Linked DNA regions of Homo sapiens. The protein of the gene in region 1 purifies or fractionates together with the protein of each later gene. This does not show direct contact. Each region holds a gene or a part of one and is shown in the gene's direction. Other genes may lie near its edges.

Region 1 (6,215 bases):
ATGCCTGGCTAATTTGTTGTATTTTTTAGTAGAGACGGGGTTTCCCCGTGTTAGCCAGGATGGTCTTGATCTCCTGACCTTGTGATCTGCCTGCCTCGGCCTCCCAAAGTGCTGGGATTACAGGCATGAGCCACTGCACCCGGCCCAATTTTTTTTTTTTTTTTTTTGAGACAGAGCCTCACTCTGTCTGGCCAGGCTGGAGTACAGTGGCACAATCCTGGCTCACTGTAGCGCCTGCCTCCTGGGTTCAAGTGACTCTCCTGCCTCAGCCTTCTGAGTAACTGGAATTACAAGCGCCTGCCACCGTGCCCTGCTAATTTTTGTATTTTTAGTAGAGATGCAGTTTCACAACATTGGCCAGACTGGTCTCAAACTCCCAACCTCCAGTGATACTCCTGCCCTGGCCTCCCAGAGTGCTGGGATTATAGGCCTGAGAAACCACGCCTGGCCCCAAACAAATTGCTTTAAGACGAGGTCTCCCTATGTTTCCCCACTGCACTTGAACTCCTGGGCTCAAGCCATCCTCCTGCTGTGGCTCCTGAGTAGCTGGGACTACAGACTCAAGCCACCACGCCTGGCCACATTCCACAATTTAGAGAAAGTGCACAACCTGGAATCCTAGGGAGACCCCGATTCACCTCAAAACTGCCACTAAGGAGGTAAAACGCTGCCCCTCTGAGGCAGGCTTCAGTTTCCCTGTGTGTGAAATTGACCTGGCGCTGGGAGAGGCTGGTGGAGGCGCGGATTTTGCAGTTTCCCTACAACATTCTGGAAGCCTGTGGTTCTGGGAAAGGTTGGCGTGGAGAAGACTGGGAAACAACCAGTGGTCACCAGAGCTGTAGCACCTCCTCCACCTCCGAGCTCTGGGGCTGGGAACCCCAGGCTTCGGGGCCCCTGTGGAGGACGCAGGTGGCCCCCTCTTTCCTGACATCTCAGGAGAGGGAGGGGCAACCGGCTAGCAGAAGAAAAGCACAGGAAGGTTATACAGCCAGGTGGGGAAGGGGCCAAATCCCTGAACAACCCCTTCCCAGAGTTCCTCTTCAAGTGCAGGGTACCCAAGAGTCAAGGCCCCGCCCCCTTTCCAGAGGCCCCTTTTCTACCCAGGTGATGGGTCCTAGCTGGGATGGGAGGCAGATGGACGGAGGGGAGGGGGGAGGAGGGGAAGGGAGAGGCAGTGGATGAAGGAGGATGGAAGAGATGACATCCCCCTCGGCCCATTCATCCCATTCAGGTCCCCAAGCCGCGCCCCTCTCCGCCCCACCTGCACTGCCAGTGCCAACATCAGAGGGAGGAAGAGGGAGCTCGGCTTAGAAGGCTGAGGCCCTGCCACCTGGGCCACACCGATCACGTGGCCTTCCTTCTCCCCACAGAAGGCCAGACCATGGACACCTCCTGAGCTGGAGGTCATCCTGCATCTCCACCCTGTTTTCTTTTTCTTTCTTTCTTTCTTTTTTTTTTTTTTTTTGAGATGGAGTCTCGCTCTGTCGTGGAGGCTGGAGTGCAGTGGCGCGATCTCTGCTCACTGCAAGCTCCCCCTCCTAGGTTCACTCCATTCTCCTGCCTCAGCCTTCCAAGTAGCTTGGACTACAGGGGCCCGCGACCAAGCCCAGATAAGTTTTTGTATTTTTAGTAGAGACGGGGTTTCACCGTGTTAGCCAGGAAGGTCTCGATCCCCTGACCACATGATCCGCCCGCCTGGGCCTCCCAAAGTGGTGGGATTACAGGAGCGCAGCACCACGCCCAGCTAATTTTGGTATTAACAGTAGAGATGTTGTTTCACAGTGTTGGCCAGGCTGCTTTTGAACTCCTGACCTCAAGTCAAACACCCGCCTCAGCCTCCCAAAGTGCTGGGACCACAGGTGTGAGCCATAGTGCCTGACCTGTAGTTGTTGAATATTTATTATTAATCTACAAGTTGGGTGTGATGCAAGTCCCATACATGGAGTCCCCCAAACTTCTAGAGCAAGGGCTTCCCCATAATCCTGGCAGGCAGGCCTCCCCTGGGGTTCCCAACTTCTGACCTCACTGAAGTGTTTATCCTCTTCTCTAATCCCAGCCTCCTTTTCCCTGTTTCCATGTCCTCTGAGAGATGCTCCCGCTCCCCCAGGCTCCCTCTGCATCCCCCTCATTTGCTTCCTCCCCAGTGTGTCAATGGAGTCCTAACCCCCACCCTTGACATTGTCCCCTTTTCCTCCTCCAGAGTGGGACCTTATTTTCCCCCAAGTGGTCCTGTCTAGGGGTGCCGCTGCCGGGCCCCCTCTGGTCTTCCTGCTGGAGACTGGGGCCTTTTGGGAGTCAGCAGGCACCCGGGCCAACCGCAGCCAGCGAGGGGTGAGCGATACTTCACCGGCGAGTCATCAGGGTGAGCTGGCCGTGTGCGATGCAGTCAGTGTCTGGGTGACAGACCCCCGGACCGCTGTGGACTTGGTTGTGCTCGAGGTGGAGGTGTTGGGTGAGGTGCCTGCAGCTGGCAGCAGTTCCCTCCACCAACACTTCTTTGTCACCTGCTTCAAGGCCGATAACTCTGAAGAAGGTGGCCCAGGGGTAGGTGGAGGGGCTGCCGCTGGGGTGTGGACCGGGGGGCACTGGGTGTCTGAGTGCAAGGCCAAGCAGTCCTATGTGCGGGCATTGACCGCTGATGCCCAGGGCCGTGTGGACTGGCGATGGATTCAAACTGGCACAGCCTGTGTCTGCACACTCCTCAGCCGGACTGGCCGGGCCTGAGACTTATACCCAGGAACTGGTCAGGCAGAAAAAGAACAGAGCTGGATGCTGAGAGACCTCAGGGTTGGCCCAGCTGCTCTACGGACGGACCCCAGTTGGGGAACTCATCAAATCATCGCAAAATCACAACTCTCTGAATTTGAGCTCAATCTCTGTAGGATGGGTGCAACAACGTGGGGTTTTGAAGGTTGAATAGGAGCTCTCCCAGGGGAACTTGAGGGTAATCATGATGATGATGATAATAATAATAGCCACTATTTACTGAGTGTTTACTCTTTCGTAGCCCTAATACATAACTCCTCGGATCAACTCTCATGGATTTGATCATTGGTGACCTTTGGTGTTAAGTTGCTGACTGCTCAGTCACAGAGGACACCACCTTGCTCATCCTGGGGAGTGGGAGGGCACATTTCACGATGTGCATGGGGGAGGAGGGAAACTGGAACATGCAAGCAGATGGCCAGGGGACCTTGAGGACATGGTCTACAGAAGGCCTTTAAGTATCTGGGAGCTGGGGTTCAAATGAGAAATCTTACTTGGTGAGAGTGGGCAGGGGTCGGCTTAGAATATTTTGTTTTGAGATAAAGAGCTACCGATCACACGGGGAGTATAAGCAAGGTTCAATGAGAAGTGATCAGGATGCTGGAGAGTTCAGCCCTGGGCGGGGAGCTCAAGTCAGGTTTCTAGCCCTCTTCCCTGTGCCAACCTATACCCTACACTGGGAAAGAAACAGACCTTAAAATTGTCCAGCTTGATGGCATCGCGGGGAAGGGACTAAGTCCAGATAATGTCCTCTGAGGCTGAGGCCTCGGGGGCAGGACACACCTCCTGCGGGCCTATTCAATAATCAGTTAAATCACCTGAAGCACACGCATTTCCGGGGACCGCTCCGGGCATCCTGGCTTGAGGGTAGAGTGGGCAGAGGTCCCTAAGGGAGAGGTGGGGCTCGGGCTGAATCCCTCGTTGGCGGCACCAGGGTCAAGTGGCTAACCTGGCAGCACAGTCACGGGGAGGCCCTCTCTCATTGGGCAGAAACTAAGTCCGAAGCCGCGCCCCTCCTGGGCGAGGAGGTTCCACCTCCTAGGTTCCTGTGATTCTCCTGCCTCAGCCCGAGTAGTGGGACATCCCACTTGCTCCCGCCATTCTGTTTACCACAGGTGACGACCGCCATGGCTGACAGGCAGGGAGGTCCCCCGAGGACCGAGCAAGCCTCGGTCTCCCAAAAAAAAAAAAGATACATTGAAGTAATTTAAAAACACTTAGGAAGATGTCATTTCTTCCTATCAAGGCGTCCTCCCTTTATGTTTTGTTATTATATAGGGAACGATAAAAAAATTTTTTTCTCAACCAATGTGGACCCGGTTGGCCTCGAACTCGTACCCTCGAACCCTCCCCTCCCTGAGGGCCCGAGGGCACGCGCAACCGGTCGGAGCCACAATAGCTCGGGGTGTCGGGGATCTCCTTTCTTCCTTTTGACCTTACGCAGGGTGATGGAGCCAATCAGGAGAGGCTCACCCCTGACGTCACCCAGTCCCCAGGGCCAGTGAGGGCCCTGCGTTCCGTGGCGCCCCCTGGAGGGAGGAAGGGGAACTGTATCTGAGAGAGAGCAGCCAATTGGGTCCGCTGACTCCGGCCGGGTTCCCGTGCCGCGTCCAACACCCCTCACTCCCTGTCTCACTCCCCCACGGAGACTCAATTTACTTTCCATGTCCACATCCCCAGTGCTTGCGGAAGATATCCCGCTAAGAGAGAGACATGTCAAAGGTAGGGTAGATCGACATTTCCAGGCACCAAAGATGGAGATGTTCCAGGAAAGACTGCAGGGCCCCTGGGCACCTTCCACCTGCTTCCAGGCCATCACTGGCATGAGAAGGGGCAGACCAGTGTGAGCTGTGGAAGGAGGCCTCTTTCTGGAGGAGCGTGACCCCCAGTAAGCTTCAGGTGGGGCAGTTCCTGAGGGTGGGGATCTAAAATGTTGGGGTATCTGAGATCCTCTGGGCTGTGGGGTGGGCTCTGAAAGGCAGGTGTCCGGGTGGTGGGTCCTGAATAGGAGATGCCACGAAGGGTCTCTGGGTCTTTGTGGGTGGTGTACCACGCGGGATGGGAAGGCCAGGACTCGGGGCTGCGGTCTCAGACCCGGGTGAAGCAGTGTCCTTGTCCCAGGGGCTGCTGCTGTTGCTGCTGCTGAGCATGGGCGGGACATGGGCATCCAAGGAGCCGCTTCGGCCACGGTGCCGCCCCATCAATGCCACCCTGGCTGTGGAGAAGGAGGGCTGCCCCGTGTGCATCACCGTCAACACCACCATCTGTGCCGGCTACTGCCCCACCATGGTGAGCTGCCCGGGGCCGGGGCAGGTGCTGCCACCTCAGGGCCAGACCCACAGAGGCAGCGGGGGAGGAAGGGTGGTCTGCCTCTCTGGTCAGGGGCTGCGGAATGGGGTGTGGGAGGGCAGGAACAGAGGGCTTCCTGGACCCCTGAGTCTGAGACCTGTGGGGGCAGCTGGGGAGCTCAGCTGAGGCGCTGGCCCCAGGCACATGCTCATTCTCCCACTCACACGGCTTCCAGACCCGCGTGCTGCAGGGGGTCCTGCCGGCCCTGCCTCAGGTGGTGTGCAACTACCGCGATGTGCGCTTCGAGTCCATCCGGCTCCCTGGCTGCCCGCGCGGCGTGAACCCCGTGGTCTCCTACGCCGTGGCTCTCAGCTGTCAATGTGCACTCTGCCGCCGCAGCACCACTGACTGCGGGGGTCCCAAGGACCACCCCTTGACCTGTGATGACCCCCGCTTCCAGGCCTCCTCTTCCTCAAAGGCCCCTCCCCCCAGCCTTCCAAGCCCATCCCGACTCCCGGGGCCCTCAGACACCCCGATCCTCCCACAATAAAGGCTTCTCAATCCGCACTCTGGCGGTGTCTTTCTGTGGGCTCAGGGCAACCACACACACAGGGTGGGTCCAGCTTCCAAACCATTTTATACAGAGTCACAGTACAGAACTCTGGTAGAAAACAGGGTGGACGGCTGGGCGTGGTGGCTCACGCCTGTAATCCCACCACTTTGGGAGGCCGAGGCAGGCGGATCATGAGGTCAGGAGATCGAGACCATCCTGGCTAACACGGTGAAACCCCGTCTCTACTAAAAATACGAAAAGTTATCCGGGCTTGGTGGCGGGCGCTTGCAGGAGAATGCAGTGAACCTGGGAGCGGGAGGTTGCAGTGAGCAGAGATCGCGCCACTGCACTCCAGCCTGCACGACAGAGCGAGACTCCATCTCAAAAAAAAAAAAAAAAGAAAGAAAGAAAGAAAAAGAAAAGAGGGTGGAGATGGGGGATGACATCCAGCTCAGGAGGTGTCCATGGTCTGGCCTTCCGTGGGGAGAAGGAAGGCCACACGATTGGTGTGGCCCAGGGGGCAGGGCCTCAGCATTCTAAGCCGAGCTCCCTCTTCCACCCTCTGAGGTTGGCACTGGCAGTCCAGGTGGGGGCTTGGGGACCTGAA
Region 2 (7,123 bases), on another chromosome or scaffold:
TTAATGCATGTGCATTAGATTGTCTACCAGATCTAATTACTCTGTTTCAATTGGAAGTATACAGTGGAAATGATATTTTAGTGAACATATACAATGAAAAATAGTTAAGTAAAATAACTTATTATTGTCAGTAATATGCTTTGGCGCTTATTAGGGAAGTTGGAGCATGATTACTGAAGAATGTTTTTTTTTTTTAATTTCATCAGTCAAAAATTTTGAGATCTTAATATTTACAATTTATGGGAATTTTAGGGAACTTGTAGTTTGACGGAGGATGTAGGAACACATAAAAGCGGATTTTAGGGAAAAGACTTGAAGGTTGTTGGTAGCTTTACATTTAAATTTATTTGTTGCTTAATTCCTTTTTTTTTGTTTTTAAATATATGGTTTCCCTTTTGCAGACCTAATAATGTGACTCACTCATGTAGAGATTTGTAACATTTTTAAAGGTTCCAGCATGGCAACTTGTGTGGTGGTGGGATTAAGAGCACTGGGCCAGAAGTTAAGAGACTTGCATTCCAATCTTCATTCTGTCACTGAGAGTTCTCTAACATTGGTTAGTAATTTGACTTTCTTGAGCTTCACTTTTCCTCATCTGTAAAATGGGGAAAATTAACTGTAAAAGGAACACTAAAGTCTATTCCAGCTCTATCTTTATGATTTTATGGTGAAGTAGTAGAGTAGAAATTATGTTTCATTTTAAACAATAACTGAACTCAGTTTAGTTTTCTGTAATGTAGGGAGCATAATGCCTGCCCTACATACTTCACAGAATTGCTTCTGAAGGTAGAGGATGGTAATATGTGAAAATAGTATTTAGGAATCTGAGCATCTCTTTTGGGCAACATTGTTTTTCTGAAATTGTATAACTGTTCAACAAAACTGCCAAATACCCAAAGAAAACATTTTGCTCAGTTAAATTTTTGTGTGTGTGGTTTACTCTCTTCTTTTTTTCCTTCTCCTTTCTTTTCCTCCACCATTACCAACATGAGATTAATCTCTGTATTAAAAAGATCTTAGTTAATACTTGCGTCTTTTCCTCCTGTTAAATTTCTGCCTGTACTGTAAAGGTCAGAGAATGAGAAAAAAAAAAAAACCCATACAACTATTACAAACTTTTTAAAGTGGAGTATTGTGGTGGTTTAAATGCAGTTTTACTTCTTTAAAAACATTAGAGGAATATTTTTCTTTTTTTCCCTATCCTTTTCTCATTATTTTGGATAAATTTATTTTCTAAGGAAAAGTTTAACAGGACTAGCATTGTAAAATTGAAAGTCTTTAGCCAGTATCTGCTTATTTAGTGGGGGAAGAAAAGATGTTTGTGAAGGGAGCAGTGCAGGGTAAAGGGAGGGGAACTGGTTTTAGTCTTCCCTTTCAGTATTGTATTTGTTTCCACTTAGGGTGTTATTTTCTCTTTTGGTCAATCAGATGCAGAAGCGTGTTCCAGAGATGCTTAGGAAAATAATTATTTTTAATTTTTAAGTAGCAATGATAAATAATCCATCTTTTGTTTCCTTTATGGAATTGTTAAGTAACTTTAAAATTTTTTAATGATTACCAGAGGAATATATGTTTATTGTCAAAAACTCAAACATAACATAAATGAGTGACTTCAAAAATTCACTGTCTGCCCATCTTTATAACTTTATAAGCTACTGAATTGTTAGTTTGTAAGTAGGGTTGTATATGTGCCAGTTTGAAATGATTCTCTTGTTTTAAGTAGAAGAACCCATACTGGAAAATGCTTTGTTATTGCATAGTTGACTATTTTAGATAGTAATAAAATTGCATCTTTAAAACTGTTTTATAAGCCATCATATGAGCTATTCTTTCAGTTACTCTCAAATATTGAGGTTTTCCCTTTTAATTTATTCATTTACTCTTCGTTTATTGAATGTGTTCCCTGGCATGAGGGAAATAGAGGTAAATTAAGATGAAGTCTCTAGTGCCAAGAAATTAGTGTCTTAGTGGGGAGAGAGATGTATAGATATTTAACTAAAATGCAGTGTGTAAGTAGGATTGTCGGAGTCTTGAGAAGGGAATTAAGGATTATAATCTGGGAGAGATGGTAAAGAGGAGAGTCACATTTGTACTTGGTTTTGAAGTATGAATAGAAACTTCAGGCAGCCAGTGACAGAAACTAACTAGTTACTATTTCAGATTGCAGAGTTTTTATTCAGTAGGATATACAGAGGGTCCCCAACTTGTGATGGTTTGACTTAACAATTTGTTGACTTCTTGTTGGCACAAAAGCTATGGCATGCAGTAGGAAGTGGTATGATACTTTCTTGTGATCTGATACTCTGCAGTGTACTGTATTACCAGATAATTTACTCAACTGTAGTCTAATGTAAGTGTTTAAGGTAGGCTAGGCTAAACTATGATGTTAGGTAGGTTAGGTGTGTTAAATGCATTTCTTCTCTTTTTTTGGAGACAGGGTCTAGCTCTGTCATACAAGCTGGAGTACAATGGCACGATCTCAGCTCACTGCAGCCTCTGCCTCCTGGCTCAGGCGATCCTCCCACCTCAGCCTTCTGAGTAGCTGGGACTATAGGCACATGCCACCATGCCAGGCTAATTTTTGTATTTTTTTTGATAGAGTTGGGGTTTCACCGTGTTGCCCAGGCTGGTCTCTGTCTCCTGGGGTCGAGCAATCCACTCGCTTCAGCCTGCCAAAGTACTGGGATTACAGGTGTAAGCTACCGCACCTGGCTGATTTATGATATTTTCAATTAAAGATAGGTTTATTGGAATGTAACCCTATTGTTAAGTTGAGGAGCATCTGTATAAAGATAACAAAATACAGTCATTCTGCATAATGATATTTCACATAACACTGAAATGATGGACTGCCTATACACAGTAGTCCCATAAGATAACACTGTATTCTTACTGTTTTTTTTTATGTTTAGATACATTTAGATACAAAAATACATACCATTATGTTGCAATTGCCTGCAGTATTCTCATTGTACGGGTTTGTAGCATGAAAGCAGTAGGCTATATCCCATGTACCCTGGGTGTATAGTAGGCTATACCATCTAGGTTTATGTAAGTACGCTCTGATGTTCACACAATGATGAAATCATCTGATGACATTAAGCAATGCATGACTGTGTTAGAGTATAAAATAGTAATGCTCTTCTTGCAGGCATATAACCTCTAAACTTCACTTATTTTCTAAACATTTTCCGTACTTGCAGAATATTCTGTGAGTTGAGAGAGCTAGATTCTAGATAATGCTCTGATACTTTTTTTTTAGTTTGAACAAGTTATTTAACATTTCTGGGCTGTAGGTTACTTACAAAGTGAGGAGATCAGTGGTTCCTAGCCAGGGATACATAATAGAATCCTCTTGGAAGGTTTTTCCAAATTCCATACATCTGGATCCTGACCCAAACTTAACTTGAACAGAAAAAAATCCCTGAAATTGTTCCAATGTTAACTACTGAAATAACTGAAATGTAAATTCTTAAATACCTGTAATTTCTTTTCCTGCTAATTATTAACTGTGGTGATTTAATTTAGTTGTCTGGGTTATAACTAAATTTCTGGAAGGCTGCACATTGGCTGTCTACTAGCAAAACCAGCTCCATGGTACTTATTTGCTCTCAGCTTCTGTTATGCTTCAAGCTGTATTTTTTGGCTTTCTAAGCCTTGCTAGTCTTATTGATTCTAACTCTTGTAATCTTAAATAGATATTCCAGTTATCTCACGTTTTTGGAATACGCTTTTATTAACCTCATAGGTTAAGAGGAGAATTAAATGAGTGAATCCATAGGAAGTATTGGTACAGTGCCTTGTAGCAAGCGTAAGAGCTGAGGAAATGGTGGCTGTTGTTACTAGTTCTATTTCTGGGGCTTGGAACATAGTGGACACTTAATAAATGTTCATTCCCCCCCACCCCCAGATTAAATTAAGCTCAAGACTACCTTTTAGGAAACATTCCTCACTATTCTATTTTACTGCCTGATACAGTTTGACATCTACTTACTGCTAAGACAGAATAATTATTTGTATTTCAGAAGTATGTGTTCCACAGTAGTCCTTTAAATAACAATTTCTTTTTAACCGCAAAGGTATGACAATATATATACTTTAAAAAACTGCAAAAACACCTTTGCTTCATAAACTGAGATGATCCTGTATATTGGAAGCTGAAAACTGTTTAAAGGCAACAGTGACATATATATCTTCTTGTAAATGGAATGGTAATTAATAACTCATTTGAATCACTAAATTTTTTTCTTTTTTTTGAATCACTAATTTTGAAGTGTATAATGGGTTGAAGTTTTTCAAGTTCATGACTTTCTCAGAACTTGTGTCTAAAGGACAATAACTGTGATTTCTATATTTTTAGATCTCAATTATTGGCTCCAATTAAGAGGTAGTTATTGATAAAATTACATTAATTTGAAAGCATTTCCAATAATTTCAGTATACTTTGTTATCAAGCCTCTTAATCCAAGTTACTAGCAGTAGATTGCTCTCTTTTCTTTTTACCTACCTAAGAGGGAAAGTGCTAACTTAAAGCAGATCGGTTGGCCAAAATATACATCATAACACAGGAGGAAAAAAATAATCGGAAAGCTAACTACTGATGAATTTGAGTCTTATTTTGCTCTTGATATAAAGTTTTCCAGTACTTATGGACAATTTTCATACTGTAATATTTTCATTATTTAAAAAATTGGAACATAAAATAATCATAGGTATATATTACTTTTACATTCCATAATTTCAGGTAACGTCTATTCTTCCTCTAGGTATTAATTTCAATTTGTTGAAAACTCAGGGAAGAATCTTTGTCCCTTTATTCCTTCAATTTTGCAAAACGTGTGGTGTTTCTTGGTTATTAAGTCAAATTCCTCTTTCGAGTCTAAATTGGCCACATTTTGTATTTTTCTCCTCATCCTTGACATTATTCAGATGGGGCTGGTTTCTGTGCCCTCACGAATAGCATTCTCACTCTGACTCCTGAGATCTTGTTCATATTTTTTCAGTTAATTCATTGTACTAGAAAATCATTTTGTTCTTCCCTATTTTGGCATTTTTCCAATTATTGTACTAGAAAATAATTGTTCTTCCATATTTTAGCAAAGGAATGTGTTTTATTCCTGAGTTAGAATAGAAATTAAAAAATAAAACTGAAGCTAGGCACAGTAGTAGTGCGTGCTTGTAATCCCAGGTACTTAGGAGGCTGAGGCAGAAGGATCTCTTGAGACCAGGAGTTCAAGTCCAGCCTGGGCAATATAGCAAGATGCTGTCTCAAAAAAATAAAATGGATTGAACTGATCAGATTTTTACCGTGATAGCAACTGCTTCCTGAGGTTTTAAGCAGCGGAGGTTTTGAATAAGTGGAGCATGTTTTTAAACATTATTTTTGGGAGGGGACATATATTTTTAGATAGTGTTTTGGAATCAGGTATGAATTTCTCTGTAGGTCCTGTCAGTAGTTGTGAAATCTTGATCAAGTTACTTAATTTTTCAGAAGCTCCTTTCCTTTCTGTTGAGTGATAATTTAGATAATTTCTAAAGCATAGGTGTTTTGCACACAATAATTGCACAGTAAATGTTCTTTTTACTTCCAACATCTTTTGTATCTTGATTATTTTGTTGTTTTTTTTCCTTCTCTCTCTTTTTTTTTTTTTTTTTTTCGAGTCAGGGTCTCACTCTTGCCTAGGCTGGAGTTTGCAGTGGTTGTGAACAGGGCTCACTGTAGACTCAACCTCCCTGGCTCAAGCAGTCCTTCCATCTTAGCCTCCCAGGTAGCTGGGACCACAGATATTTACCACCACGTTTGGCTAATTTTTAAACATTTTGTAGAGACAGGGTCTCCCTCTTGCCCAAGGTGGTCTCAAACTTGTGGGCTCCAGCAATTCTCCTGCCTTGGCCTCCGCAAGTGCTGGGATTGCAGGTGTGAGCTACTGAGCAGTCTTTTTTTTTTGGTGTCTTGATTGTTGCTTAATCTCTTGTGAATAGATAGAGGAATTTTAAAAATCTGTATTTTTTTTTTTTGGCATCATGGTAAGTTCTTGGAAAAATAGTAACATTAACCATGTAAAGTTAAGCTGTGGTATGTAATCCTATGCTGTAATAGCTTGAGGAAAGGCCTCAGTATGGGGGTTTGTGGTAGAGTGGCAGAAAGATGTGTTTTAAAGTCATACTTTAAAATGGCATAGGGTCTAGGCTTGATGTTTCTAATCAAAGATGTTTCTTTTGTGGCCCGGATAATATATTGTGTAGTTTTCTGAAACATCCTTGTCCTTCATTTTTACTGATAACATCAGATTTGTGTTTTAAAAGGAACTTAGAGATATTGAATTGACTACTGACCTATAGTTTTTTTTTTGTTTCTTTTGAGACAGAGTTTCACTCTTGTTGCCCAGGCTGGAGTGCAGTGGCGCGATCTTGGCTCACTGCAACCTGCGCCTTCCGGGTTCAAGCGATTCTCCTGCCTCAGCCTCCCGAGTAGCTGGGATTACAGGCGCCAGACCATACCTGGCTATTTTTTTTTTTTTGTATTTTTAGTAGAAACGGGGTTTCACCGTGTTGGCTAGGCTGGTCTTGAACTCCTGACCTCGCGATCTGCCCACCTCGGCCTCCCAAAGTGCTGGGATTACAGGCGTGAGCCACTGAGCCCAGCCTAGAATTGTTTTTATGGAAAATCTTGTTTCCATAATTGAGAACTCACTATGTGTATCCATGTATATAAAGAAGTTTTATTTAAAAAAATATTTGGAACTTATTTATTAACTACATATGTGCCAGGCACCTAAATAAACAGTTTATGTGTATCTTATCTTTTAAATATTTTAACAGTGTACCCTATGCAGTAGGTAGTAATAATATCCTCAATTTATGGGTTAGGTAACTGAGGCTGAGAGGTTAGGCAACTTGCCTAAGGTCATATAGGCTATTATGCACTTGACCCAAGAGACAAGGGTTTTAATTACTATGTTTAAGTGTATCCTTTAACATCACTGTAATTTTATCTGTCACATAAAATAATCCTGACTTTTAAAATATTATAATTAGAATATTCATGGAGAATAAAGTTCCAATTCTGAGAACTGGAAATTTAAGTATATAAATATTTAAATTTATTTTAGATCTTCTGAAA
Region 3 (3,938 bases), on another chromosome or scaffold:
CCACGTGTGGATCAGCAGCACCTCGCTTTCTTGTCAGAGACCTCGCTGTTACGGAGCGAGACCTGCTGAGAATTGAGGGGCTGAGGGAACCCCTCCACCTCCTCCCTTCTGCAGCGCCCTGCGCCCCACCCAGCAACAGCGGCCACTTGGCAGTGGGGCTGCTGCAAGCTCAGAGCCGCTGCCACCCTGCATGTGTCCGCTCAGCTCGGTCTTATGCTGTATAGTTACTAAATATGTACAGGAGGGCCATGGCATCTTTCTGAATGGATTTTTCTTAAGAAATGCGCCAGTGTTTATGAGGTTCAAGGTATTTCCCTGTCCTTGCTGTTACCGTCACTCAGCTTTTTCTCGATAGGCTTCATCCTTGTTTTTTTGAAATGGGGGAATTTGCTGTTTACCCTCTGCATTCCTATATGTGACCCTCCCTCCTACTCCTCCAAGGAACAGAATTACCGAGGTTCTGACAAAAGATAAGCCTGTAAACTCATCATCTGTGTTTTGTGGTTGGAGAGAAACTGGTGTTCTGCCCGGCTCTGCTTGGTCACAGACAGCTCCAGCAAGAGCAGTTGTTAAAAGTGCCAAGCGTGTGTATCACTGTGACAAGCCGTTTGCTTACTGCCCTGTTCCCTTGCAGCCAAACCAGCTGATGAAGAACTGCTGCCAGGTGGGTCCTACAGCAGGTCACAAATGACCTAGTTTCATTTTAAGCAGACAGACTCTGTTTGGCCTAGAGGTGTGGAGTGAGAGAACTGTGTTTGTGGGTATGAGTCTGTGTGGCCAACCCCATGACCCCCACCCCTCCAGCCCAACATCTTGTGAGCACATGTGACCTAGGCCCCGGGGGACCTGCCTGCTCCTTTGGCTTGGGCTCTTCGTGTTTCCCACCTGCCCTCGGCACGAGCCCTTGGTGGCATCACAGTTGGCCACTCAGCTGTGCTGAGTAGCTGTGCTACTTGTGCTGGCAGCTGCAAGGATAGGAATAGCTCAGCGCCCGATGAGCTCCCTGAGCAGATGTGAGGCTGGCAACTCCCCTGCCCTCTGTTTGCAGGCACAGGGTCACAGTCCCAAGAAAGACAACTGGAGTCTGATCTCCCAGCCATCTCTGGGGTTACTAGGAGGCAGCTGGATGGCAGATACGAGAGGCCCAAATAGCCAAGCTGTTGCAAGACAGAGTGGCTACAATTGAATTGACACCCTGGGAAGCACGAGGTAACTTGGTAAGGATAATGATGCTGTAGATGTCTGTGTCCTCGGAGGCTGAGCTCCGCTTGGCAGAGAGAGCGTGCTGTGTGAGGTGGAGGGCGGTTTTGCAGACATCTCAGCTTCTTTTCTGAGGAGGAGTTGGTTCTCATCTTAGGCTTCTGCAAGGGCGAGCATGGGATGTCTCCACCACCACCCACTCTTGGAGCTGTGCTGGGTCTTGGCTTGGGGCGCTGAGGGTGGGGCCTGTGTCAGAAGCATTTGGTGAGAGGGGTGGAGGTGGCAGGCAGGGGTTCTCCTCAGGGTTCCCACTGAGGGGTCCCTTCAGCAAAGACCTGGGAGGAGGTGCCGCATCACGTGGATGTTTCTTCCCTAAAGAAAAAGACACAGGAAAGCTGTCTGTCTGTACCCTGCTCTGGATTTATTGTCGTACTTGGACCCAGAAGGGGAAATGATTCCCTCACCCTTTCACTTTCTCTCTGAACCCCTACTAAGTGGTGACTGCAGATTCTGGAAACAATTAGCTGCCCGTGACTCAGCTGCCAGCTTCATTTTCTCTGCCTTTTGGGAGAGGCCCTCTCACCCAGGCCCAAGAGATTTGGAGACAGGAGTCAGGCCAGGTCTGAAGCAGGAGAAGGGAGGCCCCTCCTATCTACCCAGTTGACATTTGGCTTTGGGAAAAGCGCAGCTTGTTCGAGCCACGTGTGCCAAGCAGGCTTTTCCTTCCTCTTGTAAGTAAAGCTCGTGGTTCTGTAGTCCAGTCATCCTAGGAGGGTGATGTTGACTGAGACTTCACGCTCTCCCTTTGTCTCTGGAAACTGCCCCCTCGTTCTGACAGAATCCCCCAGGCAATGGAGGAAGGGTGCCGAGGCGCCTCTAGTCTGTGCCTTTGCCGTTGGAAGCATTTGGTGCTGAGAGGGTTTCCCAGCCACCCGCTCCCTTTCTGGGGCCATGGTGTCCCTGCTGTGTGTCAGTGGCATGTCACTGTGGTTCAGTGAGCACATGGGTGGACGTGCAGAGACTGTCTGCGCAGCCCCCAGCAGACATGCCCCTGGGGTGAGGACACAGGCTCTGCAGGCTATCTCCCCCTCTGGCTCAGTCATCGCCTGCCCACCCTTCACTTCTTAAAGGTGCGCAAGAGAGGAGGGCCGACTGGAGGGTGTCGCCGGAAGGTTTCAGCCTGCCCTTCACAATTCCCCTTGTGCACAGCCCAGTTTCCATCTCTCAGGGCCCACCCAGGAAAATGGATTTCAAGTGGGGGTTTTCATCCAGAGATTTGTTTAACACAAAACAAGAAAAGCTGAGAGGCAAAACAGGGGAGTGAGGGGCAACCCAGAGGTGGGGAACAACAACAGCAAGCCGCCCCCATCCTGAGACTGGCTGGGCACCAGGGGAGGACGCGTCACCAGAGCCTGGGGCCAAGGCCACTGGGGGACCTGCCACACTGTGGACCTGTCTGGTGGGGGCTGGAGCCTCGAGAAGCCATGATTCTTGTCAGAAACATTTCCCCAGGCAGAGAGAGGGGGCCCCAGCCTCTCCCCTCCTCTTGGCCTCCAGAGTCCTGCAGGTGCCTCACAGTAGTGAAACCCAGTTGGAAGCAGCTGCCCTGGGAGCCTGGGACAGGCGACCCACCGGGTCAGTCCCCTGCCACTCAGAGCAGAGCAGGGGGCTGAGGGCAAGCAGGTGGGGCTGTGCGTGGCCTCAGTGCACTCGGTGTCATGTCTGAGCCTGGTGTTTATGCCCCACTGCTGTCCTAAGTCCCTGGCGAGGGGAGGTGGAGGAGCTGCCCCGTGGGTGTTTGGAGATTCTGTTTTACTCTGCCTAGAGAGGAAACGGCTTTGGGGAGGGAGGGGGAAGCCTTTATTCTTTACTGTTGTCCCTGTTTTCCTTTGGGGGAATTTACTCAGTTAGCAGCCCCTCCTCACCATTCCCCCCAGGAAGGCCATGTCCCAGTTTTCTGTCCACCCCTCCTGTTCCTCTGCACTATGTCTCTGATTTTCCCTGCCAGGGAAGCTAACCCAGAGCACGCACCTGTGCTCATGAGTGTTTCCGCAGGATAATTCGTTCTGAGCATGATACCACAGTGTGGATTGTCTGTCTGTAAGGAGATGCCATCTACTAACCAATTTGTATTGTGTTTCCAATAAATTCCTGGAAATTTTGCCTGGTTTTATGCTGTTCTTTACTAGGATGATGGCTCAGGTGTAAGACTGTGCACGCACCCCTAGGCCCAGCCTCAGGTGGTCCTTGTTTCAGAACCTTGAGCTCCGAGGGCCCCGGGGAGGTAATAGGCCAGGCCAGTTGGTCTGCTGTGCCCCAGCTGCACTGAGACTCTCAGAGGCCTTTCCCCAGGGTCTGCATCTTCTTCTGCTGTCTCATAAGCCACATCCTGGGGACATGGAAGTTTCACGAGGCGAGGTCACCCCAGTAGGAGGCCTTTGACCCTGTGCCCCCAGGCCTGGAGGTATGAGGTGTAATAGGCAGCCTTTTTCCCGTGAACTACCCTGCAGTGTGACTTGTGCCCTGCTGTGGCCAGTGCTGGGTTGTGGGGATGGGTGCTGGGGTATTCAGGTGGTGCACTGAGGAAGGCTGCTGTGCCCCAACATGGGGTTTGCTGTTTGGCTGGCTGTTTGTGTGGACTCTGTCTCAGCTGCTGTGCCAAGGTCATTATAGGGGAAAGTGAAGCTTGGCTCCCTTGGGACCCCTCCAGCCTGTGTTTGTGAAGTACACATGTTTGT
Region 4 (7,123 bases), on another chromosome or scaffold:
TTTAGCCAGTGCAATAGTATCAGACAAAGAAAGAAAAGGCATACAAATTGGAAAGGGAAAATTGTCCCTATTTGCTGACAACATGATTATCTACATAGAAAATCCAGGGAATCTATGAAAAAGCTACTAGAACTAATTAATGAGGTTAGCAAGGTCACAAGATACAAAGTCAACACACAGAAGGCGACCTTATTTTTCTTTTTTTTTTTTGAGACAGAGTTTCATTCTTGTTGCCCAGGCTAGAGTGCAATGGTGCGATCTCGGCCCACCGCAACCTCTGCCTCCCGGGTTCAAGCGATTCTCCTGCCTCAGCCTCCCGAGTAGCTGGGATTACAGGCATGTGCCACCATGTCTGGCTAATTTTGTGTTTTTAGTAGAGATGGGGTTTCTCCGTGTTGGTCAGGCTGGTCTGGAACTCCCAACCTCAGGTGATCCGCCTGCCTCGGCCTCCCAAAGTGCTAGGATTATAGGCGTGAGCCACCGGGCCCGGCCTGGCGACCTTATTTCTGCATACAGCAGTGCCCCTTATCCATGGGGAGATACATGCAAAGTCAACACTATACAAGCTGACCTTATTTCTGTTTACAACAGTCCTTGTTATCCATGGACGATACGTTCCAATGGAAGCCTGAAACCTGAGATAAGACAGAACCCTCCGTGTACTGTGGTTTTTTTCCCTATACATCTATGCCTATGATAAAGCTTAATTTACAAATTAGGCGCAGTAAGAGATTACCAACAATAACTGTTCATAATATAGAATAATTATATACTGAATAAAAGTTATATAAATGTGTTCTCTCTTTCAAAATATCTTTTTGTATGCACTCACCTATTTTTGGAGGGCAGTTGACTGTAGGCAGCTATAACTGGGGAAACAGAAATTGCAGATAATGAAACTACAGGTAAGTGGGGACTACTGTACTAGCAATGTACAATTAGAAAGTTAAATTTGGCTGGGCGTGGTTGCTCACGCCTGTAATCCCAGCACTTTGGGAGGCCGAGGCGGGCGGATCACAAGGGCAGGAGTTCGAGACCAGCCTGGCCAACATAGTGAAACCCTGTCTCTACTAAAAATACAAAAATTAGTTGGGCATGGTGGCGTGCGCCTGTAGTCCCAGCTACTCAGGAGGCTGAAGCAGGAGAATCGCCTGAACCCGGGAGGCGGAGGTTGTGGTGAGCCGAGATCGCGCCACTGCAGTCCAGCCTGGGCAACAGAGCGAGACTCCGTCTCAAAAAAAAAAAAAGAAAATTAAATTTAAAAACACAACATTTCGTTTGCTTCAAAGGAATCAAATACTTAGGTATACATTGAATAAGACTTACAGGATCTGTATGCTGAAGATGAGAGAAATCAAAGATCATTTAAGTAAATGGGGGAACATACCATGGTCAGTGGTTGGAACACTCAACATAGTAAAGACATCAGTTCTCTTCATATTGATCTATAAATTTAACCCAATTCCAATTTAAAAATATTAGCATGCTTTAAAAACAAAAATTTTAAACAAAAATTTTGTTTATTGAGGTATAATATACCTACTTTATAAAATTCACCTACTTTTAAGTATACGTTTGGCTGGCCTGTGAACGAGGGGGTTAGGGATTCCAACCCCCTGTGCAGTTGAAAATCCGAGTGTAACTTTTTTTGAGATGGAGTTTCGCTCTTATTGCCCAGGATAGAGTGCAATGGCACGATCTTGGCACACTGCAACCTCTGCCTCCTGGGTTTAAGCCATTCTCCTGCCTCAGCCTCCCAAGTAGCTTGGATTACAGGCATGCGCCACCACTCCCACTAATTTTGTATTTTTAGTAGAGAGGGGGTTTCACTGTGTTGGTCAGGCTGATCTCGACCTCCTGACCTCAGGTGATCTGCCCGCCTCTGCCTCTGCCTCCCAGAGTGCTGGGATTACAGGCGTTAGCCACCGAGCCTGGCCTTTAACCTTTTTTTTTTTTTTTTTTTTTTTTGAGACGGAGTCTCGCTCTGTCTCGGCTCACTGCAAGCTCTGCCTCCCGGGTTCAAGCGATTCTCCTGCCTCGGCCTCCTGAGTAGCTGAGATTACAGGCACCCGCCACCATGCCTGGCTAATTTTATATTTTTAGTAGAGATGGGATTTCACCATGTTGGCCAGGCTGGACAAGTATAACTTTTGACTTCTCAAAAGTTAAAACTACGTGACTTCCCAAAAGTTAAAACTACGAATAGCCTGCTATTGACCAGAAACCTTACTGATAACATAAACAGTTGATTAACAGAGATTTTGTAAGTTATATGTATTACATACTGTGTTCTCATAATAAAGTAAGCTAGAGAAAAGAAAATGTTGTTAAGAAAATCATGAGGAAGAGGAAATAAACTGACTACTCATCACGTGGAAGTGGATCATCAGAAAGGTCTCCATCCTCAAAAAGCTCACAGTGAGCAGGCCAAGGAGGAGGAAGTGGATGGGTTGGTTTTGCTGTCTTGGGGGTGGCAAAGGCAGAAGTGGAGGGAGGTGGAAGGAGGGGCTAGAGAGGCAGGCATACACCGTGTAACTTTTACTGGAAAAAGTCTGCAAATAAGTGGACCCGCATGGTTCAAACACGTGTTGTTTCAGGGACAACTATACAATAATTTTTAGAAGATTTCTGGAGCTGTGCAACAACCATCACCATAATCCAGTTTTTGTTTGTTTGTTTTGAGACAGGGTCTCACTCTGTCACCCAGGCTGGAGTGCAGTGGTGTGATCTCAGCTTACTGCAACCTCCGCCTCCTGGGTTCCAGTGATTCTCATGCCTCAGCTTCCCAAGTACCTGGGATTACAGGAGGTGCCACCAAGCCTGACTAATTTTTTTGCATTTTTAGTAGAGGAAGGGGTTTCACCGTGTTGGCCAGGCTGGTCTCGAACTCCTGGCCTCAAGTGATTCATCTGCCTCGGCCTCCCAGTACTGGGATTATAGGCATGAGCCATCGTGTCCGGCCTGTTTTTGTTTTTTTAATTTTAATTATTTTTTAAATGGAGATGGGGTATCACTATGTTGCCCAGGCTGGTCTTGAACTTCTGGGCTGGAGCAATCCTCCTTTCCTCCTGAAAGTGCTAGGATTACAGATGTGAGCCACCAGGCCCGGCCTTGCTCATCTGTTGATGGACAGTTAGGTTGATTCCATGTCTTGGCTGTTGTGAAAGGTGCTGCAATAAACATGGGGTACAGCGATCTCTTGGACATACGGATTTCATTTCTTTTAGATATATACCCAACAGTGGTGTTGCTGGGTCATATGGTAGTTCTATTTTTAATATTTTGAGGAACCCCCGGCACTGTTTTCTACAATGGCTATACTGATTTACATCTCCACCAACAGTGTACAAGGGTTTCCCTTTCTCCACACCCTGGACAACACTTGTTATCTTTTGCCTTTTTGACAAGAGCCAGTCTGACAGGTGTGAGGTGATAGCTCATTGTGGTTTTGATTTGGATTCCCTGATGATTAGCGATGTTGAGCATTTTTTCATACACCTGTTGGCCACTTGTACACCTTCTTTTGAGAAATATCCATTCAGATCTTTTACAATTGAGTTGTTTGAATTCTTTGTATATTTTCATTATTAATCCCTTATTAGTTATATGGTTTGCAGATATTTTCCTGCATTCTGTAGATTGTCACTTTGTTGATTGATTCCTTTGCTGTGCAGAACATTTTTAGTTTGATGTAATCCCATTTGTCTATTTTTTCTTTTGTGGCCTTTGCTTTTGAGGCTTTATTTCCTCAAAATAAGCCAGGCACAGAAAGACAAGTACTGCACGATCTCACTCACATGTGGAATCTGAAAACGCTGATGCCACAGAAGAACAGAGCAGAATGGTGGTTACCAGAGGCTGGGGTGGCTGGCGGAAGGGGAGAGAGGAAGATGTTGGTCAAAGGATACACATTTACAGTTAGATACAAGGGGGAAAGTCCAGAATAGGCAAATATACAGAGACAGAGAGTAGACAGGTGATTGCCTGGGGCCAGAAAGCAGGGGAGAGAGGATCAGTGAAGAACGGGTAGAAAAAGTGAGAATAACTGCTAATGGTTAGGGAGTTTCTTCTCCCTTTTTTTTTTTTTTTTTTTTTTTTGACAAGGTCTCGTTCTGTCACCCAGGCTGGAATGCAGTGGGGCAATCATGGCTTACTGCAGCCTTGCCCTTTTGGGCTTAAGCAATTCTCCCACCTCAGCCTCTCCAGTACCTGGCACTACAGGTGTGCACCATCATGCCTGGCTAAATTTTGGTTGGTTGTTGTTTTGTTTTTTTGAGACGGAGTCTCACTCTGTCGCCCAGGTTGGAGAGCAGTGGCGCGATCTTGGCTCACTGCAACCTCTGTCTCCCAGGTTCAAACGATTCTCCTGTCTCAGCCTCCTGAGTAGCTGGGATTACAGGTGTGCACCACCATGCCCGGCTAATTTTTGTATTTTTAGTGGAGGCAGGGTTTCACCATGTTGGCCAGGCTAGTCTCAAACTCCTTACCTCAAGTGATCCTCCTGCCTCAGCCTCCCAAAGTGTTGGGATTACAGGTGTGAGCCACCGCCTAATTTTTGTGTTTTTTTGTAGAAATAAGGTTTCACCATGTTGCTCAGACTGGTCTCAAACTCCTGAGCTCAGGTGATCCCCCTGCCTGGGCTTCGCAGGGATTATAGGCTAAGCCACCGCACCTGGCCACATTTAAGTCTTTAATTCATTTCGGGTTGATTTTTGTCTATGTTGAGAAGCCAAGGTCTGATATTATTTTTCTGTATGTGTGTATCTAGTTTTCTCAACACCGTTTATTGAAGAACCTATCCTTTTCTCATTGTGTGTTCTTGGCACCTTTGTTAAAAATCAGTTGGCTGCAAATGCATGCATTTATTTCCAGGCTCTATTCTGTTCCATTGGTTTATGTGTCTGTGTTTATGACAATAGTGTGCTGTTTGGGTTACTATATCTCTGTAGTTTTTTTTGTTTTGTTTTGTTTTTGAGACGGAGTCTCACTCTGTCACCCAGGCTGGAGTGCAATGGCGCAATCTTGGATCACTGCAACCTCCGCCTCCCGGGTTCAAGCGATTCTCCTGCCTCAGCCTCCTGAGTAGCTGGGGATTACAGGCGTGCGCCACCACACCCAGCTAATTTTTTTGTTTTTAGCAGAGACGGTGTTTCACCATGTTGGCCAGGCTGGTCTCGAACTCCTGCCCTCAGGTGATCCGCCCACCTCAGCCTCCCAAAGTGCTGGGATTACAGGCGGGAGCCACCATGCCCAGCCTCTGTAGTATATTCTGAAGTCAGGTAGTGTGATGCCTCCAGCCTTGTTCTTTTGCTCAGGATAGCTTTTGCTATTCCAAGTCTTTTGTGGTTCCACACAAATTTTAGGATTTCTTTTTCTATTTGCATGAAGAATATGGTAGGTATTTTGATAGAGACTGCATTGAATCTGTAGATTGCATTGAATCTGTAGATTGCTTTGAATCTGTAGATTGCATTGAACCTGTAGATTGCATTGAATTTGTAGATTGCTTTGGGTACTATCTATTGTTTATTTATTTTTTGAGATGAGTTACCTAGGCTGTTACCCAGGCTGGAGTTCAGTGGTGCAGTCATGGCTCACTGCAGCTTTGATATCCTGGGCTCAAGCGATCCTCCCACTTCAGCCTCCTGAGTGTCTGGGACTACAGGTGTGAGCCACCACGTGCAGCTACTTTTTATTTTATTTCTTTTCTTTTTCTTTTTTCTTTTTTTTTTTGAGACAGAGTTTTGGTCTTGTTGCTCAGGCTAGAGTGCAATGGCGCAATCTTGGCTCACCGCAACCTCTGCCTCCCGTGTTCAAGCAGTTCTCCTGCCTCAGCCTCAAGCTACTCAAGCTGGGATTACAGGCGCCCACTACCACGCCTGGCTAATTTTGTATTTTTAGCAGAGATAGGGTTTCTGCATGGTGGTCAGGCTGGTCTGGAACTCCTGACCTCAAGCGATCTGCCTGCCTTGGCCTCCCAAAGTGCTGGGATTACAGGCATGAGCCATCACGCCCAGCCTTATTTTATTTTTTAGTAGAGACAAGGTCTAGCTGTGTTGCCCAGGCTAGTCTTGAACTCTTGAGCTCAAGTGATCCTCCCACCTCATCCTCACAAAGTGTTGGGATTACAGATGTGAGCAACAGCACCTGGTCTATTAATTCTGTTGTTGCCAGTGTTTTTGGTGTCATATCCAAGAAATCATTGCCAAATCTGATGTCATGAAGCATTTCTCCTGTTTTCTTCTAAGAGTTTTATAGTTTTAGATCCGATGTTTAGGCGTTGATCTGTTTTGAATTAACTTTTCTTTTTTGTGTGTGTGTTTGGTTTTTTTTCGAGACAGATCCTTGCTCTGTCGCCCAGGCTGGAGTGCGGTGGCGCAATCTCGGCTCACTGCAAGCTCCGCCTCCCGGGTTCAAGCGATTCTCCTGCCTCAGCCTCTCTAGGAGCTGGGATTACAGGCCCCCGCCACCACACCCAGCTAATTTTTTGTATTTTTAGTAGAGACGGGATTTCACCGTGTTAGCCAGGATGGTCTCGATCTCTTGACCTTGTGATCTGCCCGACTCGGCCTCCCAAAGTGCTGGGATTACAGGAGTGAGCCACCACGCCAGGCCAAATTAACTTTTCTGTATATTATATAAGGTAATGGTCCAACATAATTCATGTATGTGTGGATATTCAGTTTTCCTAACACAATTTGTTGAAAAGACTATTCTTTTTCCATTGAATGATCTTGACATCATTGTTGAAAATTGTTTGGCCACATATGTGAAGGTTTATGTCTGGGTTCTTTGTTCTGTTTAATTGGCCAGTATGCCTTTCTTTATGCCAGTGCCACACTGTTTCAATTACTGTAGCTTTATGGTAAGTTTTGAAATAAAAAGGAGTGAAGTCTCCAACTTTGTTCATCTTTTTCAAGATTGCTTTGGCTATTCTGGGTCCTTGGAGATTCCTATGAATTTTAAAATGGGTTATTTTTGCAAAAACAAAGTGCTGTTGGAATTTTCAAAGGGATTGCATTGAGTCTTTAGAAGGCTTTGGATTGTATTGTCATCTTAACAATATTATGTCTTCCAATCCATTAACAAAGATGTCTTTCCATTTGTTTGTATTTAATTTCTT

What was found.
Region 2: the proteins of CGB2 (region 1) and NCKAP1 purify together in Homo sapiens (affinity purification with mass spectrometry; 2 studies listed by BioGRID and IntAct, with this or other methods). This does not show direct contact.
Region 3: the proteins of CGB2 (region 1) and MTA3 purify together in Homo sapiens (affinity purification with mass spectrometry; 2 studies listed by BioGRID and IntAct, with this or other methods). This does not show direct contact.
Region 4: the proteins of CGB2 (region 1) and CYFIP1 purify together in Homo sapiens (affinity purification with mass spectrometry; 2 studies listed by BioGRID and IntAct, with this or other methods). This does not show direct contact.

What each region holds. Positions count from the first base shown.
Region 1 is NC_000019.10:49,027,617-49,033,831, forward strand, and holds CGB2 (choriogonadotropin subunit beta variant 2 isoform 1 precursor), read left to right. Parts: upstream 1-4,273; 5' UTR 4,274-4,479; coding exon 4,480-4,488; exon of another isoform or gene 4,489-4,654; intron 4,655-4,887; coding exon 4,888-5,055; intron 5,056-5,290; coding exon 5,291-5,605; 3' UTR 5,606-5,622; downstream 5,623-6,215.
Region 2 is NC_000002.12:183,028,356-183,035,478, reverse strand, and holds part of NCKAP1 (nck-associated protein 1), read left to right. Parts: intron 1-7,123. UniProt on the Homo sapiens protein: Part of the WAVE complex that regulates lamellipodia formation. The WAVE complex regulates actin filament reorganization via its interaction with the Arp2/3 complex. Actin remodeling activity is regulated by RAC1.
Region 3 is NC_000002.12:42,753,585-42,757,522, forward strand, and holds the end of MTA3 (metastasis-associated protein MTA3), read left to right. Parts: 3' UTR 1-3,362; downstream 3,363-3,938. UniProt on the Homo sapiens protein: Acts as a component of the histone deacetylase NuRD complex which participates in the remodeling of chromatin.
Region 4 is NC_000015.10:22,970,287-22,977,409, reverse strand, and holds part of CYFIP1 (cytoplasmic FMR1-interacting protein 1), read left to right. Parts: intron 1-7,123. UniProt on the Homo sapiens protein: Component of the CYFIP1-EIF4E-FMR1 complex which binds to the mRNA cap and mediates translational repression. In the CYFIP1-EIF4E-FMR1 complex this subunit is an adapter between EIF4E and FMR1.